2 linked regions of the Homo sapiens genome follow. The protein of the gene in region 1 purifies or fractionates together with the protein of each later gene. This does not show direct contact. Each region holds a gene or a part of one and is shown on either strand. Other genes may lie near its edges.

Region 1 (5,288 bases):
TCTGAAGAGTGTGATTTTGCCCCCTGTGCAAAGAGTAAGATGGCCATCTGCAGATGAGTCACTGCGGGCCTCTGTCAGGGGAGCCTCCGTGGTGGAGGCAGCACTGGTTTCTGATCGCAGCCACTCTCTTCGCCTGAGGATTCCCCGGTCATATACCTAGTTCTGACCGTCTTCAGTGCAGACGGCAGCACTTCTGGGCCTGAGCCGGCCTCTGGGAGGAAGGATGCTGGCTGGCCAGCACGTGTGCTTCGTTTTGGCACCTTGTCCAGAGGCGCTCCCGAGGCTGGTGCTGACTGGGGTCCGTACAGTCCTGGCAGTCCTGAAGTGAGTGAGCCCCTGCCCTGAGCTGGTGGCTGCCCCAGTGCCTGGGCGCCCATAAGGCCCCTAGGCAGATGAGGGCTGGGGCAGAGCTGGAGTTGAATCTCAGTGCCCACGGATGGACCTTGATTGAGGCGGGGCCCTCAGCAGTCACAGGCTGAGATTTTCCATGCTGTGGGCAGGGGGGTCAGGAAGCCCAGCACACGCAGCGCAGCCACTGTGTTCCACCTTGCCCCATGGCTCCCGGCCGGCTGGTTCGGAGCAGTGTTGGCTGTGCCTGTGTGCTCTGCAGTGTTCTCACTGAAGCGGTGGCACTGAAAACTGAGCCACCTGAGCAAGGAACAGCAGTGAGGCCGCGTTGCCCCCATCAGGCTTGTGGGACCCAGGGCCAGGGTGAGGCGGGAAGGATCCATGCGGATCCCCGTCCTCTGGGTCCTCTCCTCGCCTGGTAGGGACCTGAGCGCCCTCTGTAGTGAGGCCTGGGTCAGCTCTGCAGCCATATGTGACGCCCCTTAGTCACAGCTCAGCTGTGCTCAGATCCTCCCTGAGTCTATTAATATCACTGTGTTGAATTTCACAACAGTTTGGCACTTACAGCGAATCTGAGAGGAAAACCGAGGAGTACGATACTCAGGTAAGTCACTTGTGATTCAGGGCACGTGCATGCCAGGCAAATCCAACACCCTCAAAGACGGGTCTTTTACTGTCATTGCTCAGTGCGGAAGTCTCCTTGGAGTACGGGTCAGCCCGCCTTGAGCAGGGATCCCAAGAGTGAACACATAAAACCCAAATTTCTTACTGGGAAGGGCGGGGGCTCGCAGAGACTCATTTCCCAGTCCTTACAGGCACAGCCTGCCTGTGTCACCGTATAGTAGGGATATTTTCATCGTTTGTAAGTCACATTCGCCAGGCAGCTGACGCAGGCCATGGTGTCTGCTGTGGTTGCTGGGAACGCACTTGCCGTCACCAAGGCCATAATGGCCGCGGCCGCACAGTGGCCTGGAGGAATGGCCCCAGCAGCACAGGGCGTCACCTTTCCCCATTGCTGTTGGGGGAGCTGGAATTCTCAGTTCCAGTTAATAGAACATTTCTGCACAGATGATTTTAGTTTGGTTTAATCTTCACCAGCTTATATCCAACTTGCATGGCGTTGTAAAGCTGAAATCAGAATGGATACAGCTGGCGATGTAACTACATTACTTAGTAGGCAGTTTTTTCCGGTTTCTTTCCATTATGTTTATTGATCTGTTGTGGGTTGGTTGGTTTTGACCAACCAGAATTGATCTATTATTGTTAACTAGCGCCTGTAGTTACACCCGGGCTCTGGCGTGTGCGGTGCCTCCTGGGGCTGTGGCGAGTGTGCGATGCCCTGCCTGTGCCCCTCACGCCGCCCCCTGCAGAGCAGCCCTGCCACCCTGAGCGCTGTAGCTCGTTCTGTCTGTCCCTGTCGGGGTGAGCTCCATGCAGTGTGTTTACAGAGGCTTGGCGTTTGGGCCTCTAACTGGAAGCCATCTTTGTTCCCTGCAGGCCATGAAGTACTTGTCATACCTGCTGTACCCTCTCTGTGTCGGGGGTGCTGTCTATTCACTCCTGAATATCAAATATAAGAGGTAGGAGGCCGCACACGCTTCCCCTGCTGCGTCTTTCCCCTGAGAAAGCCATTTGGATGACTGAGCCAGAGCGGGGTGCGACTGGAGGGCAAACTCGGGGCCGGGGCACTTGGGCCAGCGCCTGGGAGGGGTCCTGCCCCTGCAGCTGCACACGGTGGGCTCTGGGCCTCAGTGTCCCCCTGGTAAGGTGTAGCTGAGAGGACTGACTCCAGCCACCAGGCTTCATGGGAGGCTTGGGCCTGAGCTGAGAGGGGTCCTGGAGCCCCTGGCCTCTGCTGCCCGTGTGGGGTGCTGGCCCTGAGCTGAGAGGGTTCCCGGAGCCCCCGGCCTCTGCTGCCTGGGTGGGGTGTTGGCCCTGAGCCGAGAGGGGTCCTGGAGCCTCCAGCCTCTGCTGCCCGGGTGGGGTGCTGGCCCTGAGCCAAGAGGGATCCCGGAGCCCCCAGCCTCTGTTGCCCAGGTGGGCTGCTGGCCCTGAGCCAAGAGGGATCCCGGAGCCTCCAGCCTCTGCTGCCCAGGTGGGGTGCTGGCCCTGAGCTGAGGGGTTCCTGGAGTGCCCGGCCTCTGCTGCCCGGGCAGGGTGCTGGCCCTGAGCTGAGAGGGGTCCTGGAGCCCCTGGCCTCTGCTGCCCAGGTGGGGTGCTGGCCCTGAGCTGAGGGGTTCCTGGAGTGCCCGGCCTCTGCTGCCCGGCCGGGGGTGCTCAGCGCTATCTCCAGCTTGAGAACCAGGCTCAGCACTGCTGCTCTTGGCTGCCGAGCTGCCGTGAGAGCATCTGGGTATTTTCAGAGGATTTTTAATGAAAGAATTATTTTTCATCAATTTAATACAGATATTAAGCTATGCGAGAAATAGGACTTCTCCTTTTTTTTCCGTTTCAGCTGGTACTCCTGGTTAATCAACAGCTTCGTCAACGGTGAGTCCATGTGCTTCCCTGCTTCAGTACTAGTGTTTCCAGCAGGCAGCGATTTAATTGTTCTTGCATTGAAACCCAGTGTGGCAAGCCCCCCTGTGATTTGAGGCTAATCCCTCCCCACCCTGTTCTGGCACATGTGCGGTGCCCAGGGCTCCCCCCAGGCTGTGAGCAGATAAAGCCCTGCGTGGCTTCACAACAGTGACTGGTTCTGAGAAACAGGTCCTTGTACAAGCGACAGGGAGTGCTCACACCAGATGTGGCAGCCCCTCCACGCCAGGCTGTGTGGTGCAGCCGCCTGGTATATGTGTCCATCGCTGATGAAAACAGCATTGTGTGGTGCATGACTGTTGTCTGTTTTCTTCATGGAAACAAGGAAACCTAAGCATTAAAACAACACCATCCACGTCTGGTTCCTTAGAGCAAATGGAAGCACCAGGCTCTGGTGCACGGCGCGCCCCCTCCTGCAGATGCAGTGTGGGGACCCTGCAGGGCCCTGTGCTCGGGGCCACATGTCCTGGGAGGCCCGCCTGCCCCAGGTGGCACCTTCAGCTGCATGGGCTGCTGTGTCCATCCCCCAGCCCCACCAGACCAGCCCTGATCGCAGCTTTGTGGTCTCTTTGGGAAGTGGTCCCGTGAGCATTAAGGGCGAGGGCCTGTCTGGTGCAGAGCAGGTGGGTCCCGCACTGCCGTCCTCCCTGGTAGGAGTCCCACACCTGACCCCTGGGGCAGGACCTTGTGGGTCAGGAGGCCGTGTCCTCATAGCCCCAGGGTGCTCCAGTGCTCTCACTGACTTGACCCCGTGGGCAGCAGTTACACTGATTAATAAATAGAAGAGCTTTGCTCTCCAAAGTTGTCGTAGACTCTTGATAAACTTACCAGCCAGAAAGCTGCTTCACACCATGATGGACTCTGAAGTTGTCTGGATAGCAGACCTTGTTTTCTGCCCACTATGCATAGACGTGGCAGCTCGGCCCTCCACACCTCGTGAGTGCCGTCTGTGCGTAGATGTGGCAGCCCGGCCCTCCGCACCTCGTGAGTGCTGTCTGTCTTTCTGCAGGGGTCTATGCCTTTGGTTTCCTCTTCATGCTGCCCCAGCTCTTTGTGAACTACAAGGTAAGGCGGTGTGTGCTGCCCGCGGCCCGGCCCCCGTCTCCTGTGCTGCCCACAGCTGACCTGGGCCTGTCTCTCCTGTTTCAGTTGAAGTCAGTGGCACATCTGCCCTGGAAGGCCTTCACCTACAAGGTGAGTGTGACAGCCGGTGAGGAATCCCTTCTCACTGAGCAGAGCGTGAGCAAGGGCGTCTTCCAGCCAACAGCATTACTGGGGCCATCTCTGCCCAGAGTGCATCTGCACCTGTCCCTTTCATTGAAGAATATTGAGGAGGCTCCTTTAAAAAAAAAAGCGAAGAGCTATAGAGTAACTTCAGACCCTGAAAGACTGGGGTGGTTCTCTCACTTGTCACAGATTTGGTTTTCTTTTTCTTTTTTAGTGTTTATGTTTCTTCTTAGCACATGTGTCAAGACACAGACCCCCTGTGGCTCAGTAACCGGTGCCTGGGGACAACGGATTCAGGCCTCCCAGGCAGGAATGGAAGCCCCCATGGGCCGTGGCCATTCCCCGCTGGCAGAGCTGTGGAGGCCCCCTTGGCTCCGTGTGGGATTAGAAGTGCCTCGGCATTGCAGGCGGAGCTGAGTTAATGGGACATGATTTGCACTTTTCTGAAGTCAATTACAAGCTCCCAGAGGAAAGGGCAATGCTCAGGTGGCTCTGCCCTTGGCTCTCCCCTTGGCTGTGGTCTCGGGCGGCTCTAACCTTGGCTCTGGTCTCAGGTGGCTCTGCCCTTGGCTCTGTCTCGGGCGGCTCCAGCCTTGGCTCTGGTTTCAGGCCATTCTCTTTGGGTTCCCCGATGTGGGAGCCTGGGCAAGACCCGCAGTGTGTCGGGTGCCAGCAGCTGTGGGGAGCCCATGAGGGAACAGAGCTCCGTATCTCCACTTGCCGGCTTTCTGCTCTTTTTGTTGTTGCTGTGAGGAGTTCCAGTTAGTTCCAAGCATCTGCCAAAAGCCGTTGGCTTGGTTAGGTTACCAAAAACAGTAGGATTCCAGCCCCAGCAACTGGGGTTCACCCTCCTCCCGTCTGGCCCTGCAGGCTTTCAACACCTTCATTGATGACGTCTTTGCCTTCATCATCACCATGCCCACGTCTCACCGGCTGGCCTGCTTCCGGGACGACGTGGTGTTTCTGGTCTACCTGTACCAGCGGTGGTGAGTGCGGCTGCGTATGCTCGGCCGTTGCTCCGTCTCAGCGGCGTGGCTGCTGCTGAACGGAATGACGGCTTTCACCGCACCCTGCGCCTGTTTATCCATTTGAGGGAAAAGATAATTTGCAGGTGGTGGTTTTTCCTGTCTTGCCTAAACTTGGGTTCCAGTTGCCCATGATATGTCCTGGCAAGA
Region 2 (4,794 bases), on another chromosome or scaffold:
GCAAAAAGAAGTAATAAAAGAATCACATCTCAGGAATATGTTAAGGTTTTTTCCTCCTTAGGGACTTTAGTTCGTGTTCAGTCTGTAGCCGAAACATGTATGTAATGGCAAAAGAATTAAAGAAGGCTAATGTCTGCAGCAGGGAATATAAATTAAAAATCAGGGTTCTGCCTGTAATAATATTTTCAATGTGTTTGCTTTAAAGAATGTTACTTTTATAATTATTACTACTTATCAATGAATAATAATGTTTTTCAGTGTAGACAAAATAGTATTTTCTATCCCTTACATTTAAAGCAGGTGATACAAGTTACTTGATGCTAGCTAGGTAAGTCATTGTAAGGGAGACAGATTTCTAGTGCTAATGTTCTACGATGGCTATAATCAAAGTACCAACTTGGCCTTCGTGAAAATGACAGAAGGTTGTCATGGTTGTCCTTCAATACAGAACCATAAACAGAGCTCTTATTGGTAAATTTGTAATTCATTCTTCTCTGCTAAAGACTTTAGCCTCTGTTTAGCTTTTGTTGTGACACATACAAAGTATAATATATACCAATTACAGACGTGTATTTCTGTTAGAAAAATACATATTATAACTAAAGAACATGTAAATAGAGGCACTTCAATAAGCTAAGTGTTTGCAGTTATGAGCATCACCCACCAATTTCTAGTGTCAGGTTTCAGTGAGCCCATTCCTCTCTATTCATAACAAAAGTTATGATATGATTACAGAATTTAGGGAACATCAGAGCAAATGAGGGGCAGGTCATAAAAAATAATGAAGCCTCATTGCATCCCCTATCACTATGCTGAAATGAGAAAAAATAATTCGAGGGTTGAATTCCAAAATACTTACTGAAATAGGGTAACTAGGTTAAGTGAAATCCTTTAGGGCCAAAACATTTCTCATGTTAAATTAGTCTGAAAATCATATGACATAGTAGTATGATGATAAAAACTAGGAAGTACAACTTGAATGATATTTTGACCACATCCATGCAGGGTGCTAACACTGTGACATCATTAACTGATATCATTTCAGCTCTCTGCCTGGCTCATTATGCATCACTATATCTCATCAATATGAATCATATTGATAATGAAGGTGTTGAAACAAATGAAGCAGGCGTTTATATATTAACTGTGTGTTTAGTGCGTATAGAACATGGGTTCACATTCACTAATATTATGTGTATTCATACACATGCACAAAACCTTTTGGGGGTGAAAGCACAGGAAAAACAAGGCATCCTGATCTAGTTCATAAAAGAGAATGCAGAAATATTTTAAAAAGGAAAGACCTGGAGTTTAAAGCCATAAAAGCAAGTTATTATTCAAATAGTCTGGAAAATCAAGGTTGATTTAATTTGTATTGCACCTTAATTATTGGAGAAAGACAATACTGACTTCTGAACACAGAATGAAATGAGCAATGTAAATGACTGGTCCTTCATAGAGAAGTCTTATGTGGAATTTGTGGTAGGAAGCCAAAATGTGGGCAGTGAAATGGATGGTTTTCTAGGAGTATGTAATGATGAACTAGATGGTTAATTTCATAAAGGTTTAAATGAAAGAATGCCACAAAGTCTCTCATCATCCTACATTTTATATTTCATTAGGCATAAAGTAGCAATAGATGCTTGTAAATACTTTCTGTCTTGCAAAAGTGCTCAAATATACTTAATACTATTGTGCCACATGTGTTCTACTTAAATGTGATGACTAAATCAATAACTAATTTTAATTTTGATGAGAACAGATTGAAAAATACCATTTACGTGTCAATACTGTCGATGAGTTAATTAAAATGTAACTGGCCTACTATGGTGTCTTGAAACATTACTTTTCCCTACTCCAGATGCATCATAAAAACTAAGAAACATATGGATAGCCAACTGTATTCATAAAGCCCCCAGTTGGGTTTATTTTGCTTCTCTCTGTCAGGGGGAGCGAAAGGCCTGGCTTTGGCCTACTTGGTGAACAGGTTAGGCTGTGGCTCTAAACTGGCCTATTGAGTTAGGTAATGTATCCAAGTGCCAGGCAGGAATCCTAGGCCGAAGGTGTTTTACATGAAAGCAATGGTTTTTCATGAATAACATTCTTTACACATACAGTTTCCATCACCGGTAAAGCCCTGCACACCAATGGCTCATCCCATGAGTTTGGTGTAGTCTGGAGCACCCAGGCTGAAGCACACTCATGCAGAAGGGTGTGCCCTGGCAAATTTTTAATAAATGGACAGTTAGATACATAAAAAGTTCTCTTTCTTGATTCTTGGTGCTCACCGATCACTGAGGAATCCCTTCTTTGAGCAGCACAAAACAAGAAGAGCTGGTTGACAAAACATTTTCTTACAAAGGTGTGTCAACCCTGAGCTTGGAATTAAGAAGTTAAAATCTGTGATTTATATATACATAGATATAAAAATAGATGATCATACTAAGACTAAAAAAGTGAAAGAAATCTCCATGTCAATACTATATATATATATTTTTTGTCTTGACTTTTTTTTTCTGTTGTGAGTTGTTTTGTAAGAGAATGCCCTTGTGATGCAGAAACCAACTGACACAAAGTAAATAGTTAAAAATGAAAACTCAGGAATGGATCTAATTGTGTTTCAATTCATTAAAAAAACTATTGTTTTGGGAGGGTAATGAGCACAGGGGCAGAAACGTCTAGTTAATGTCAAACCTGTGGCAAAAGCAGAGATTGTATCATCAAAGATTATTTTCAATTGAGACTCTTGAGGAAGGTGAATTGATGGGGGTAGCTACTAGTAATTGAAGATGAAGGGGAAAATCTGTGCCAATTGGATACAGCGGACAGACATTAAGGGAATTAAGAATAATGGTGCCATTACTAAATTGAAATTGGGCAGAGTAAGACAGAGGTACTGAGTTGTAGTAATTTGTGTTCTCATATTAAAGACGGGATTCCAAATTTAGTATCAGTACCTCCAGATTAATTTGGTGTTGTTTGGTTAGAGTGCAAGATGATACCTCCAAGACAACAGTGCATTTTCACTACATTTAGAACAAACTTTAAGCTTTCTCCCCATAAGCATTTTTAAACCCGGATTTGTCACAAAAAAGCTTACACTGGAAGTTGGCTGTCAATGCTGAACTTACAGTGTTAAAGTTCATTTATTTTTCTCTGTTTGCTTTTTTGTTGAAAATGTAGCTGTCTTGGGGTTTGGCCCGATTTTACAAGGAAAATTATTTTCTTTCTTCCTTTTTTATTTTAAATGAGAAAAAAAAAACCCTCACAACGTGAGATTCCTTTACTTCTGCAGCATAAAAGCAAATGAAGGTAAGAAAATCTCCTGGTACGAAAAATTTGAGTAAGAATTCTCTCTAGAATAAACAAGGTCCCCACAGATAGCTGAAGGAAAGAGGAAGCAGTTCAGTCTGGCACCCGGTACTCTTTGGGAAAACAAAAAGGGAGGCAGATTGCATTACTGCTCTCTTCTCATAGAAAACGGTAAGTTTTTGTGGCATGGTCCATTGTCCAAGAGTGTAAGAAAAGAAGTGAGTTGGCCATTCAGATAGCTAAAATGCAGTTTCATCTGACCAAAAACCCAAGATTATCTGCACAGTCTCTGCAGTGCCAGGACAATGCAGGTGAGAGACCAGGAGAGCAGGGAGTGGCCACGCTGGGCTGCAGAAGAGTCCACCTCTCTCCGGTCGGGATCCACTGCGGGGGCCTCTGTGGTGACAAACTCAAACTCCGTGGGACACACGTCATCCATGCACCCACTGCCACTCCCTGAGCCACTGGATTCATCACCTAGTGTGGAAAGATTGAAAAAGAAAGTTAGACCACTGATATGTTTAGGCTTTGTGGCCCCACCCAAATCTCATCTTGAATTGTAATCCCCATAATCCCCACCTGTCAGGGGAGAGGCCATGTGGAGGTAATTCAATCATGGTGGTGGTTTCCCCCATCCTGTTCTCGTGATAGTGAGTGAGTTCTCACGAGATCTGATGGTTTTTTAAGGGGCTCTTCCCCCACGGCTTGGCACTTCTCTTTCCTGTCACCTTGTGAAGAAGGTCTTTTGCTTCCCCTTCGCCTTCCACCATGATTGTAATTTTCCTGAGGCCTCCCCAGCCATGCTGAACTGTGAGTTAATTAACCACTTTCCTTTATAAATTACCCAGTCTCGGGCAGTTCTTTATAGCAGTATGAAAACGGACTAATACAACCAACCAGGAAAGAGTGGAAACAGAGCTCAGCAGATATGGGGCATGGTGGTGGGAGGCAAAATCTCCCCATCCATGGTCCCCCACCCTACCCAACAGGATTGTTTTTAATAGGCAGTGGTGTGATGAGTGGGTGGACTGTACAGAAATAGGTGTTTGAAGAACAATATCAACTGATACCTGAGTTATGCAACCCAAGGAATGTGTGAACCCCAGACTCAAGGGGAGGCCACACCTACCATGTTGGCCTTAGACATTTCTTCTGGCCAGTACTTAAGTTTAAGAAATTCCATTCTTTGCTCTTTTTATACTCAGAGCCATTGCTCTAGGAAGATACCATGCTTTTTAAAGGATTTTAAAAGAAAAATAGAGGAAAACAAGTTCTACAAATAGGAAATGAGAGGAGCAGCAGCAATAGTAGTGAGAGGTCTCTATCAATATGACTTTTGTCCACCTTTTCCCCACCTGTGTTCTCCTGAGAGCAAGGCTGGACTCTGTCCCAGCCAGCTTGTCCCTTTAAACCAGAAGTTGACAAACTATGACCTGCTGCTTGCTTTTGTATGGTCCATAACTCCAAAATGGTTTATTTACA

The links. Proteins that work in one complex are often made in the same cells at the same time.
Region 2: the proteins of CLPTM1L (region 1) and GPC6 purify together in Homo sapiens (co-immunoprecipitation; one large-scale study listed by IntAct). This does not show direct contact.

What each region holds. Positions count from the first base shown.
Region 1 is NC_000005.10:1,320,427-1,325,714, reverse strand, and holds part of CLPTM1L (lipid scramblase CLPTM1L), read left to right. Parts: intron 1-901; coding exon 902-952; intron 953-1,845; coding exon 1,846-1,928; intron 1,929-2,803; coding exon 2,804-2,838; intron 2,839-3,895; coding exon 3,896-3,951; intron 3,952-4,035; coding exon 4,036-4,080; intron 4,081-4,983; coding exon 4,984-5,099; intron 5,100-5,288. UniProt on the Homo sapiens protein: Scramblase that mediates the translocation of glucosaminylphosphatidylinositol (alpha-D-GlcN-(1-6)-(1,2-diacyl-sn-glycero-3-phospho)-1D-myo-inositol, GlcN-PI) across the endoplasmic reticulum (ER) membrane, from the cytosolic leaflet to the luminal leaflet of the ER membrane, where it participates in the biosynthesis of glycosylphosphatidylinositol (GPI).
Region 2 is NC_000013.11:94,402,010-94,406,803, reverse strand, and holds part of GPC6 (glypican-6 precursor), read right to left. Parts: intron 3,790-4,794; coding exon 3,587-3,789; 3' UTR 1-3,586. UniProt on the Homo sapiens protein: Cell surface proteoglycan that bears heparan sulfate. Putative cell surface coreceptor for growth factors, extracellular matrix proteins, proteases and anti-proteases. Enhances migration and invasion of cancer cells through WNT5A signaling.